Linked DNA regions of Homo sapiens. The protein of the gene in region 4 interacts with the protein of the main gene of each other region in a pairwise test. Each region holds a gene or a part of one and is shown on either strand. Other genes may lie near its edges.

The links. The genes of interacting proteins can lie anywhere in the genome.
Region 1: the proteins of SPTBN4 (region 4) and MORC3 interact in a two-hybrid assay, tested with the Homo sapiens proteins (one large-scale study listed by BioGRID and IntAct).
Region 2: the proteins of SPTBN4 (region 4) and CDKL5 interact in a two-hybrid assay, tested with the Homo sapiens proteins (one large-scale study listed by BioGRID and IntAct).
Region 3: the proteins of SPTBN4 (region 4) and RPS6KA6 interact in a two-hybrid assay, tested with the Homo sapiens proteins (one large-scale study listed by BioGRID and IntAct).

Annotation. Positions count from the first base shown.
Region 1 is NC_000021.9:36,374,665-36,377,132, forward strand, and holds the end of MORC3 (MORC family CW-type zinc finger protein 3), read left to right. Parts: intron 1-478; coding exon 479-632; 3' UTR 633-1,968; downstream 1,969-2,468.
Region 2 is NC_000023.11:18,635,108-18,638,607, forward strand, and holds part of CDKL5 (cyclin-dependent kinase-like 5), read left to right. Parts: 3' UTR 1-3,500. UniProt on the Homo sapiens protein: Mediates phosphorylation of MECP2. May regulate ciliogenesis.
Region 3 is NC_000023.11:84,115,200-84,118,699, reverse strand, and holds part of RPS6KA6 (ribosomal protein S6 kinase alpha-6), read left to right. Parts: intron 1-1,245; coding exon 1,246-1,316; intron 1,317-1,551; coding exon 1,552-1,640; intron 1,641-2,412; coding exon 2,413-2,471; intron 2,472-3,500. UniProt on the Homo sapiens protein: Constitutively active serine/threonine-protein kinase that exhibits growth-factor-independent kinase activity and that may participate in p53/TP53-dependent cell growth arrest signaling and play an inhibitory role during embryogenesis.
Region 4 is NC_000019.10:40,571,501-40,575,000, forward strand, and holds part of SPTBN4 (spectrin beta chain, non-erythrocytic 4), read left to right. Parts: intron 1-518; coding exon 519-692; intron 693-837; coding exon 838-880; intron 881-3,500.

The sequences.
Region 1 (2,468 bases), on a different chromosome or scaffold from region 4:
TGGGCCTGTGCTTCCAGCTACTCAGGAGGCTGAGGTGGGAGAATTGCGTGAACCCTGGAGAGCAGTGGTGCCATCGCAGCTCACTGCAGCCTTGACCTCCTGGGCTCAGGTGATCCCCCACCTCACCCTCTTGAGAAGCTGAGACTACAGGTGTCGTCACCAAGCCCGGCTAATATTTTGTGTTTTTAGTAGAGTCAGGGTTTCACCATGTTGGCCAGGCTGGTCTCGAACTCCTGGGCTCCAGCGATCTCCCTCCTCGGCTTCACAAATGCTGGGAATACAGGCATGGGCAAGTGCACCTGACTCATAAAAGTGAATTATTAAAGTAAATTGAGTTCTCTAGGGGAGGTTTTGCTTTTCCTTTTGTTTAATTGTATATTATTCTACGGAGATTTGATTTTGATATTTTACTTTTTAAGGTCTACATGAATCTTAACTTGTAATGCTCATCTAATAAGTTACATATTTGTATTTGCAGCCTCAAACTCCGATCTCTTCGAGTTAACGTAGGACAACTGCTGGCTATGATTGTGCCTGATCTTGATCTTCAGCAAGTGAATTACGATGTTGATGTAGTTGATGAGATTTTAGGACAAGTTGTTGAACAAATGAGTGAAATCAGTAGTACTTAAAGTATATGTTATGTAAGATAAAATATTTGCTCAATTCTTTTGGTTGTACAGCTTTCAAAATATAATTAATTTTGTTTTATAGATATGATAGGCAACAGACTGAAAACCATAATCTTTACTGTATTCTATGCATTCAAATGTGGTCACAAATATTGTGGACACATTATCTTATGTTTTGAAATACCTGTGAATTGTTGGCATTGAGCAGCTGAAGCTAACTCATGACTCTGTTTTGAATGTAAATATTTGTAATTAAGCCTGCACATATTTTTTTATTGCCCTAGAGTACTCAAGTGTTTTTCACCAAGAGCTTTTCAGGTTGCCCCTAAGCTTTGTGCAATTTTTTCTGGTTCCCCAAAGTGTATTTTTCTCTAAGTCGAGGGCTATGCCATAATACAAATGGAAATGTTACCTTTGATTTTCTTATAAAGGAGTTTAAATAGGATTTTTAAATAATGTAGTAACACTCCTGATACAACTCTGGTTATAAGTGAATTGAGCATTAATGTTTCTTTTGTATAAATTCCTGTCCTGAAATATTTTATTCATGAAAATAAGGTAAGCAAAAACCAACTCCATTTTGCCAGGATTTTGTTGTGCTGAGATTGCCAATCACGGTTAAACACAAAGTGTTTTTATAGAATGAAGAAACAGTCTTTAACAGAAAAAAGGTATTGAAATATTAAATGGCCACCAAGTTTACTTTGAAGCCCATTTTTGGCTGTTTAGTCAGCATGAAGTGGGCATGATAATTTTTTAATATTTCTTTTTGTGAAATTTCCTGTACAGCCTTTTGTAGGATTACTACAGGTTAATGTGAGTTGAGGAAGACAGTCTTTCTCAAACAATACTACATACCTTTTATTATATTACAAACCTAAGTGTTTTATATCCTAGAGTCAAGGAACAAATTTCCTTAGGATTATAGTATTACATGCCATAAAATACTATGCTTTATTGGTCCCATGTTTTGTGCAATTTTAAAGAGATGGCTTTCTATTAAGTATAAACTATGTATATATAAGAACCATATTTTCCACAACTAAAATGTGCATTATTTTTTCCAAAGTTTTATCATTGCTATTTATTTTTACCTTTGTTTTTGAACATTCAATCCGTTCATTTTGTATGTATGCTTAATACGTGTCGGTCATATACAGTATTGAATTTTTACTGTATAGTAATTCTGGAAAGAGCAAATAAATGAAGATTGTTTTTATTTGCCTGATAAAGTAATTGAAAGTGTATTTTTGGTATGAAGCTGGTTTTCTGTCACAATTGTAATTTCCCAAATTTTAAAATATCTTATAATAAAATAAAAATATATGATGGCTAACTGTTCAAATGCTACTTTTAAAGACTTAATATTAACCTCAAATTATTTTAAAACTAAAAATGTATTCATTAGACCCTCAACTTGAGCTCATTTTAACTACTTTAATTGCAGTTTATTTTTTGAAGACTGTTTCCATTAAGACTGAGGCTGAGCTCCTCTTTCCTCAGAGCATGTATATTCTGTTTTCAAAAGCTTTTTCTCAGCCTGGCGCAGTGGCTCACGCCTGTAATCCCAGCACTTTGGGAGGCCGAGGCGGGCGGATCACCTGAGGTCGGGAGTTCAAGACCAGCCTGACTAACATGGAGAAATGCCGTCTCTGCTAAAAATACAAAATTAGCCGGGTGTGGTGATGCATGCCTGTAATCCCAGCTACTCAGGAGGCTGAGGCAGGAGAATCACTTGAACCTGGGAGGTGGAGGTTGCAGCGAGCCGAGATCACACCATTGCACTCCAGCCTGGGCAACAAGAGCGAAACTCCGTCTCAAAAAAAAAGGACTTTT
Region 2 (3,500 bases), on a different chromosome or scaffold from region 4:
TTAAAGTGTTGAATACTTAAATCCTCACAAGTGAATTATGAACCATTTGTAAAGTGTTTCTATAACTCTTTGTATCATGTGTTGGTACATCTTATCAAGTTTTTTCTGGCATGTAATTCCATTCTAAACTTATGTAAAATTTCTATTGTTGCTGTAAATATTACACAAATATCTATTCCGTGATAACCTTCATTATCAGCATGAAATGGTTAATTTTTACTGAGCACAATGTATTTTTGAATGGATCTTCCCAAATGTCTTTAATAAAATGCAGATTTTGCACTGACTGATGTGACTGCCAGGCCGTCCCAATCTTGAGCACTGTGGTCCTTCGTGTTTGAACTGCGAACAGCTCCATTTTAGTTCCTTCTTGGGAAGAAAGAATGCATTCGAATTCAAATGAGGGATGATGGGCCTTTGAGGTTGTAATCAGTTTGAGACAGAAATTAATGTAAAACTAGGCAAATCCTGTAACTTAATGATGTTGATCTTTGTTTTCCTATTTATAAAGCTTTTTTCCCCTTACGGCATTTTGAAAACTTTGGTTTGTTTTATACTTGAGTGTTGTCACCTTTGCACGTCGCTAGACACTCACGTGGTAGTTTGAGGAGGATGGGAAGAGAGGCCAATCTTGTGCTAAGTGCTATGGAGAAAGCAAAGATGCACAGCTTAATAAGGGTTTTTTGATTCTAGAGGAGAGGTGGGCAAGCTTTTCCTGTAAAGGGCCAGATGGTAAATATTGGGGGCTCTGTGGCCCATCAGTTCCCTGTCAACATTACTCAGCTCTGCCTTTGTATTGCAGAGGCTGCATGGATAATATGTAAATCAGTAAGTGTGGCTGTGGTCCCGTAAAACTTTACTTATAGAAACAGGCCATAGTTTACTAACCCGTTTTAGGCCCTCAGTTTCATCATTTAGGGTAACACCAACCGAGTACATGTTCAATCAGGAGGGAAAGAACTTAGCTTTTGTGATAACTTATAGATGAAATATTCCCCAGTTTTCTTTCTCTTTCTAAACAAAGGGTAGGAGCTGAAAGTCAGTGCTCTCCATTCTTAAAAGTCCTCTGTCAACCACCTCTTCACTCTATCTCCTTAAGTGACATGGAAACTTGTGGCCTGTGCTTTCAACTATAATCTTACCAAGACTGAATGAAAGTATTTGGTGCTTATACTTTTTAATGTTCATAGCACTTACTATGGCCAGGCACAATGCCCAAGTGTTTTGCTTTATTATTATTATTATTATTATTATTATTATTATTATTATTATTATTTTCACAACAACCCAGCGAAACAGGTACTATTATTATCCCCTTTTTGTAAATGAGGAAACAGATTTCCATACTTGACATTAACCTGCCCAAGGTCACCCAGTTTGGAAGTGGCAGGGCCAGGATTTGAAGCCGAATATGTTCATTGTAAAGCCCATATACCCTTAAAAGTCACTGCACGTCCACGTATGGTAATGTGGTCACAATCAGTATTGTTTCTCTTTAGTAATTCAGATTTATTCAAGTAACTCCAAGGTTCAAATTTTCAAAAACAGTTTCCAACACAGGTTATATTAAAAACTTTGCCTGAAGTTTACTCTAGGTGCAGAAATAAAGACAACTTAGTCAAGTGAAGGAAAGGGTAACAGACTTAGAAATGGCTATCTACACTGATGGAATAAGTATACTAATTAGAGCAGGTAACAAGTCCCCACGATGTATAACATATTCTTCTCTAAAAGCTCACAACAATTTATGTGCCACCTTCCATCCCCTTTCCCAGCAGATGGTAATTGATGCAATTTGAGAATAGAACACTTCATTGAAACAAGTCACTGGAGGTCCTCTGGGGATGCAGCTTAAAAGCCCAGGATCAGGCCAGGTGTGGTGGCTCACGCCTGTAATCCCAGCACTGTGGGAGACTGAGACGGGCAGATCACCTGAAGTCAGGAGTTCGAGACCAGCCTGGCCAATATAGAGAAACCCCGTCTGTACTAAAAATACAAAAATTAGGTCTGGGCGGTGGCTCACGCCCGTAATCCTAGCACTTTGGGAGGCCAAGGTGGGTGGATCACGAGGTCAGGAGTTCGAGACCAGCCTGGCCAACATGGTGAAACCCCGTCTCTACTAAAAATACAAAAATTGGGTGTGGTGGTACATGCCTGTAATCCCAGCTGCTTAGGAGGCTGAGGCAGGAGAATCACTTGAACCCAAAAGGCAGAGGTTGCAGTGAGCCGAGATCACGCCACTGCACTCCAGCCTGGCAACAGAGCGAGACTCTGTCTCAAAAAAAAAAAAAAAAAAATACAAAAATTAGCCGGGAATGGTGGTGAATGTCTATAATCCCAGCCACTCGGGAGGCTGAGGCAGGAGAATCACTTGAACCCAAAAGGCAGAGGTTGCAGTGAGCCAAGATCGCACCACTGCACTCCCACCTGGACGACAGAGCGAGACGCCATCTCAAAAATAAATAAATAAATAAATCCCTAGGATATAGAGTCCGCTTGCCTGGGTGGAGTCTTGGCTCCATCTCCTACATCTCATGTGACTTGAAGCAAGGCACTTCACTATGCCTCAGTTTCCTTATCTTTAAATGGAGGTAATCACAGTACCTACCTCAGTGTTGTTGTGAAGATTTAATGAGATAATAACCTGCAGAGCACTTGAGAGTCTCAAGAAATATGAGCTCTTATAACATTATTGCTATTGTAAAACATTGCTATTACTTCTGTCCCAATTTGGCAGTTTCAGGAAATTGAGAAGGAATGTCACTGAATCTTTAATGCCAGTTACACAGAGCTCAGTAGGTGTCCGCACAGCCCTTTAGATGCACGTAGCCTATTTGATCTTCGTATCAGCCCTGTAAGGTTGGGCTTAAGAATGACCCAGCATGGAAGTACTCTTGGGACCACAGGGGAAGCAACAGTCCTTGTAAGCTGTTTGTCAGTGGGCCTTAGCAACCAAGCCCCAAGTGGACAGAAAGATGGGGTTCTGTGAGCATCCATTCCAAGGGTCACTTTAGGGGTGCAATCTTCTGGGCTCTGAGAATGGATTCACAGCAGCATCTCTATCTGGAAATACCTTTGCTTTGTCCAAGTAACCTCCTCCCACACAGAGTACCCGAATCAGCTCAGATTTTTTTTCCTTAATATTGGCAACACTTAATGCTACTTCTTTGTTCGTAACATTTCATTTAATTATTTAAAAATCTGCAAATGTTGTGTATATTTTACCGCAATTTTTAAACAAACTCCAGTGTAGACCGTGCTCTAGCATTTCTAAAAATAAAAGTAAATATGTTAAAATAAGGTAAGAGTGAGTTTTTCCTACACTATGTATAATTTTTAATTGAAAGTTTCCCCCACAAAAGAAATGATACTTGGAAGCATAGTTTGTGTGTTTGACAGCAAGATTCTATTAGGCTTCAGATTTCCCTCAATAAAAGTTTTAGTTTTTATACATTCTGTCATGAATTGAATGAAGTAAATAATATGCTGTTGTAAGCAAA
Region 3 (3,500 bases), on a different chromosome or scaffold from region 4:
TGACACAGATCAAAAAGAAATGAATTGTCAAAGATAAAAATGCCTATAAAATTTGTGAGCTTTAGGGGGTTCAAAGAATGGTAAGTTAATAGAAGAGATAGCTGAAGAGGACAGCTGGTTTTGGAAGTGGGAAAAAATAATTTTTAACATGTAGCATAGGTTACTGTAGGTTAATGACTCACCACTGGGTGGTGATAAACTAGGAGGGGTAGTGGAGAGAGAATCAGAATCATTTGGAGACCTTAATACGTATATATTAACTACCCAACGTGTAGTTTCTTTGAGGGAAGATGTGAGTCCTATATACGATCCTTCCTTCATTCTCTCCCTGAAGTTCTCACCTCTACTCCTCCAGTCTTTGGTGGCGTACCATTACTTAAGATTTGGGAAGGAAAGCTGGAGTTTGAGAGAGATTAAGCCTTGAACAGCAGATTTTGGGAGACATTAAGATACAGAAGAGACTTGAATGTATAAGCTCACTTAGATTGTGAGTTCAGATAAATGAGTAGAAGACTAAGGCCAAAGCCATTATTGAATCTAAGTTTGAGATTTAAATACTGGTGATACAAAAACTTCTCTTTAATGTACCGTAATGATTTTTAGAGGTAGTCTTTTTTTATACCATTATTTAATGTTCTAGTTAGTCACATTGCAGTCAGTTCTCTTTGAGAAAATGTTTTCCTTCTTCTGTGTACAACTAAGGTGTATGTTTCTTTTTTAAAGCTATTGGCATGTGTGTGTGTGGCAGGGGGTGGTGGTGGTGGTGTGTTCTGCTGCTTCTACTTCTTTTTTGGCTCCTGTTTTGGGGGCAGTGGAGGGAATGAGAATGGTTAAATCTTTCTTGGGCATGTATGAATTTGAAATGCTTTTCTGCTTATTTTTCCTTTTCCTTTATTATTAAACATTCTCTTCAAAAGAGTATATTTGTTTTAACAGAAAATGCATTGTGTGTATTTTCAAATTGCTTTGGCTTTGAGAACATAGCCGAATTAGAACTGAGGAAGAATTGGTTGGTTTCATCTGCTACAGGTCACCATCAGTTGAGCTATATATATAGAGAGAGAGAGTGGGATACCAGAAGTATATTTCTTTAAGTGACCTAGTTTTCTGGTCCCATTTTGATCTACTATCATGTAGATCTTACAATTTGATGATTATATAGAAGTCTCAGTTTTTTTCTAGAGAATCTTATTATATATTCTAAGGTGTTCTAATTGTGTGGTGTGTTTTGTTTGTTTGTTTTAGTTTGAAATGCTTACTGGTACTCTGCCATTTCAAGGTAAAGACAGAAATGAGACCATGAATATGATATTAAAGTAAGTGTAAACAGTATGTTTTTCTTTTGGGAAAAAAATCTCTTGCTTTCAGTTTTGAAAAAATTATTGCGGTTTTAAAATAATACAAGAGTACCTTTTTCTCACTGTCTTGTTCCCTTCTACCATATACAGGACTGTACCCTTGTAAAAGCACTTTTAAAAGTTCTTTTTGAGATTTTTCAAATCAAAAATGTGGCTAAATTTAAGTGAAACTTTCTAAAATCCTCTGTTTCAGAGCAAAACTTGGAATGCCTCAATTTCTTAGTGCTGAAGCACAAAGTCTTCTAAGGATGTTATTCAAAAGGAATCCAGCAAATAGATTGGGTATTGCTTATTTTCTTAGCTTTTATAGAAGTAACTGCATGTTTTGGGAGGATAATTAAATCTTTATGTTTTCTTGTTTGATTTGAGCACATTACTTCTATACGTAGAATTTTTCATTTTGTGTGTGCATTTCAGACAAAGTAAACTCTGTTATGTCCATGATTTAAAACTGAAGTAGTCTAGTTAATGAAAGCTTCTGTTCAACCTATTATTATGTATATATTATGGGTTACTTCTTTTGAAATAATAAACAGATTCTCCCTTGTACAGGTAATCTTTTATATATTTGAAGATAGATATTTTGCCCCCCCCCAATATTCTTCAAAGTAAATATTATGTTTCTGTAACTACTTTTTTGACCCCTTTCTGGTAGCCTTTCCCTGTATCCAGATGCGATCCTATTATTTATGCCCTTGTGTGAAAATTTCAGTGTCACTTTATTCCTTTGTACCTTTCAATTTGGCATATAAATATGAGGTCATAAGATAAATTAGGAATGAAAAAATATGTATTTAAGTTTAAGTATTATGTTTAATACTATTTGATTTGATTTGGGAGACACTTTATTGTAGTTCAATATGAATGTTAGTTATTTTTTATCACAGTAAAATGAAAGGACCAGCTAATAAAATGCCAGATAAGAAATCATGTATTTTTCTTTTCAAGGAATGTATGAAATATGTGTATTCCTGTTTACAGATAGCAGTCTGGAAGCCAGGGAGCAAGACTAAAAAAAATCATAAAAATAAAATATCATTTCTTTTTTTTATAGGATCAGAAGGAGTTGAAGAAATCAAAAGACATCTGTTTTTTGCAAATATTGACTGGGATGTAAGTTAAGTAGAAAGCTTGTTATTGAATAACTTCATATGACCAACACAGGATATTAAAGATTTATTGCTTTTAATCTAAATAACAAATCAGTGGAATATTTACATACATATTTATTTTTCTTTTTCTTAAAAAAATAATTTAGATCTGGGGGTGCATTTGTGGGTTTTTTCCGTGGATGTATTGCATAATGGTGGGTTTGGATTTCTAATGTACCCATCAACCAAACAGTGACCAGTAGGTAATTTTTCAACCCTCAATTCCCTTTTAACTTCTCCCCTTTTGGAGTCCTCGGTGTCTATTATTTCCATCTGTATGTCCATGTGTATCCATTGTGTAGCTCCCACTTATAAGTGAGAACATGGGATATTTGATTTTCTGAGTTATTTCACATAGGATAATAATCTCCACCTCCATCCATGTTGCTGCAAAGATAATGATTTTATTCTTTCTTATGGCTGCATAGTATTCCATGGTGTCTATATACCTATTTTCTTTATCCAATTAACCATTGATGGACACTTAGATTGATTCCATGACTTTGCTATTGTGAACAGTGCTGTGATAGACATACAAGTGCAGGTGTCCTTTTTATATAATGATTTATTTTCCTTTAGGTACATACCTATTAGTGGGATTGCTGGGTCAAATTTTTTTGATTATTAGTTCTTTGAGAAATCTTCATATGGTTTTTCATAAAGGTTGTACTAATTTACATTCCCATTAACAGTGTATAAGTGTACCTGTTTTCTCCCACATCCATGCCAACATCTGTTATTTTCTAACTTTTTAATAAAAGCCCTCCTGACTGATATAAAATCATATTTCATTGTGGTTTTAATTTGCATTTTTCTGATGATTAGTGATATTGAGCATTTTTCCATGTTTGTTGGCTGCTTGTATGTCTTCTTTTGTAAAATGCGTGTTCATATCCTTTGCCCACCTTTTAATAGGTTTGTTTGTTTGTTTGTTTACCTGTTGAGTTGTTTGAGTACCTTGCAGATCTCGATATTAGTCTTTTGTCAGAGG
Region 4 (3,500 bases):
GGACAGATTCAGATTTTGCTAGTGGAATCTGTAGGTGGTCTTTCTTCCTCGTACCTAATGCCAAGGTAGGAATAAACAAGGGCACCTAGTATGTTTTGCTTTGGGAGGGATTCCTCCAGGATCGAGGCTTTGGATGACTGGAGAGACAGGAATTCTTTATTCCAGACAGTAGACCAATAGACTTTCCTTGAGAAAGCTCCATGAGTGGGGAGGATTGAGTGGAGCAAAGGCTTATGGAGGAGACAGCTTAAGACTTACCTTCAGGAAATTCAGTATGGGAGGGGATAAGGAAGGGAAATCTCAGCCTGGGCAAAGGCTTGATACTGAGAGACTTAAATGCTCCCCTCAGGGCAGCAACAGCCTTAAGGAAGAGCATTTTAGGTCCAACTAGGGCGCAACTAGGGCGCAAAGGTCCAGAGGTAGGAAGGCTCAGACATATTCAGACCTTGAGGATGTTAATGAAGAGTTATTAGGCAGAGTGCTGCGGCTCTGCCTTGAGCCCCATCTTGTCGCTCCAGGTCGTGGGTGAGCCTGTACTGTGTGCTTAGTAAGGGGGAACTGGGCTTCTACAAGGACTCCAAGGGCCCGGCATCCGGGAGCACACACGGTGGGGAACCGCTGCTCAGCCTGCACAAGGCCACCAGCGAGGTGGCTAGTGACTACAAGAAAAAGAAGCATGTCTTCAAGCTCCAGTGAGCCCCCCAATGGGCAGGAGGGAGGGATCCAAGGCTCAGCTTCAACTCCCAGTGGGACCCTGGCTTCCCTGGGGGACACTTGGTGGGCAGGTGGGCTGGGCCCCTTCCCCAGATCTCTGAAGTCCTGTGTCCCTTCCTGCAGGACCCAGGATGGCAGTGAGTTTTTGCTCCAGGCAAAAGATGAGGTGAGATCTGGTCCTTTCCTCCCTCTGTGTGGACCTCAGTAATGACCTGGCTGTCTGGCTCCTGACCCAGAGTGATGGGGCTGTGAGAAGGGACACTCACAGGCCAGAGTTATCAGGGCTGTAATGGGAAAGCCCACAGGCACTGAGAGCCCAAAGGAGGTTCCTAACCCAGTGGGGAGTGGGAAGGGCTTCAGGGAGGGCTGCCTGCAGATCCTGATGACAAAGTCCAACATCTTTGCCGTGGTCACTCAGGTGAGACTGGAATGGAGGGAGTTCGCTTTAAAAAGGGGTGATTTGGCCAGGCGCGGTGGCTCACGCTTGTAATCCCAGTACTTTGGGAGGCCAAGACGGGCAGATCACCTGAGGTCAGGAGTTTGAGACCAGCCTGGCCAACATGGTGAAACCCCGTCTCTACTAAAAAATACAAAAATTAACTGGGCATGGTGGCAGGTGCCTTAATCCCAGCTACTTGGGAGGCAGAGGCAGGAGAATCGTTTGAACCTGGAAGGCGGAGGTTGCAGTGAGCTGAGATGGAGCCATTGCACTCAAGCCTGGGGGACAACAGCGAGACTTCCTTCGAAAATAAAATAAAAATAAAAAGGGTGATTCAGAGGGACAGTGGGGGTCTAAAAAAAGGAGTGATTCAGGTTGGGCACCATGGCTCAGGCCTGTAATCCCAGCACTTTGGGAGGCCAAGGCAGGAGACTGCTTGAGCCCAGGACTTCAAGATCAGCCTGGGCAACACGGAAAGATCCCATCTCTATGGGTAATAATAATAATAAATTAGCCGGGAGTGGTGGCACATGCCTGTGGTCCCAGCTACTCAGGAGGCCGAGTGGAAGGATCACCTGAACCAGGGAGGTCAAGGCTACAATGAGCTGTGATTGTACTATGGCACTCCAGGCTGGGTGACAGAGTGAGATTCTGTCTCAAAAACAAGAGGGGGTGGGTGATCTAGGTAGAGGGAACTGCAAGTGCAGAGGACCAGAGGTGCAGTATTGCAAAGGGTTAACTGCTGGAGGGCAGAGTTCATGGAAGAAGGTCCCAGAAAGGTTCCCAGGAGATAGGTGTCTCAGGACAGGATGGGCCATTTGGAGGAGATTGGATTTTTTACCTAAGGGCACTGGAGAGCTAGGGGGGATTACAGTGATGTGTAAAAAAGATTCCTGGCTGGGCGCAGTGGCTTACGCCTGTAATCCCAGCACTTCGGGAGGCCGAGGCGGGTGGATCACCTGAGGTCAGGAGTTTGAGGCCAGCCTGACCAACATGGAGAAACCCCATCTCTTATGGTGCATGCCTGTAATCCCAGCTACTCGGGAGGCTGAGGCAGGAGGATTGCTTGAACCCGGAAGGCAGAGGTTGCAGTGAGCTGAGACAGCGCCATTGCACTCCAGCCTGGGTAACAAGAGCAAAACTCCATCTCAAAAACAAAATAAACAGGCCGGGCATGGTGGCTCACGCCTGTAATCCCAGCATTTTGGGAGGCCGAGGCGGGCAGATCACAAGGTCAGGAGATCGAGACCATCCTGGCTGACACGGTGAAACCCCGTCTCTACTAAAAATACAAAAAAATTAGCTGGGCATGGTGGCGGGCGCCTGTAGTCCCAGCTACTTGGGAGGCTGAGGCAGAAGAATGGCTTGAACCCGGGAGGTGGAGCTTGCAGTGAGCTGAGATTGCGCCACTGCACTCCAGCCTGAGCGACAGAGCGAGACTCCATCTCAAAACAAAACAAACAAACAAAACAAAACAAAACAAAACAAAACAAAAAAAGATTCCTTTGGCTACCTGGGTGGGTAGCCCAGGCCGCGGCCAGGGCAGGGACCCAAGTGGGAGAGCGCATGGCTGGGCCACACAGGCCTGTGGGGAGAGGAGGAAGAGGAGTCTGAGAGAGGCAAGCATAAAGGTGGTTTGAAGAGATGTTGAGAGTAATAACTAACACTTGTTATCTCATTCAATCTTCACAAGATGCAATGAAGAAGTGGGCTTTTTTTTTTTTTGAGACAGAGTTTCTCTCTTGTCACCCAGGCTGGAGTGCCATGGCGCAATCTCAGCTCACTGCAACCTCCACTTCCCGGGTTCAAGCGACTCTCCTGCCTCAGCTACCTGGGTGACTGGGATTACAGGCTTGCGCCACCATGCCCGGCTAATTTATGTATTTTTAGTAGAGACGGGGTTTCTCCATGTTGGTCAGGCTGGTCTCAAACTCCTGACCTCAGGTGATCCACCCGCCTCAGCCTCCCAAAGTGCTGGGATTACAGGCATGAGCCACCACACCCGGCCAGAAGTAGGCCTTTACCCACTACATGCCTTCTTTTACTTATCTGCACAATGAAGATTAAAAATAGTTTCTTGGCCTGGCATGGTGCCTCACACCTGTAATTCCAGCACTTTGGGAGGCTGAGGTGGGCAGATCATTTGAGGTCAGAAGTTCAAGACCAGTGTGGCCAACGTGGCGAAACCCCATCTCTACTAAAAATACAAAAAGTAGCCAGGCATGGTGGCACGTGCCTGTAGTCCCAGACACTCAGGAGACTGAGGCACAAGAATCTCTTGAACCTGGGAGATGGAGGTTGCAGTGAGCTGACATCGAGCCATTGCACTCCAGCCTGGGGGACAGAG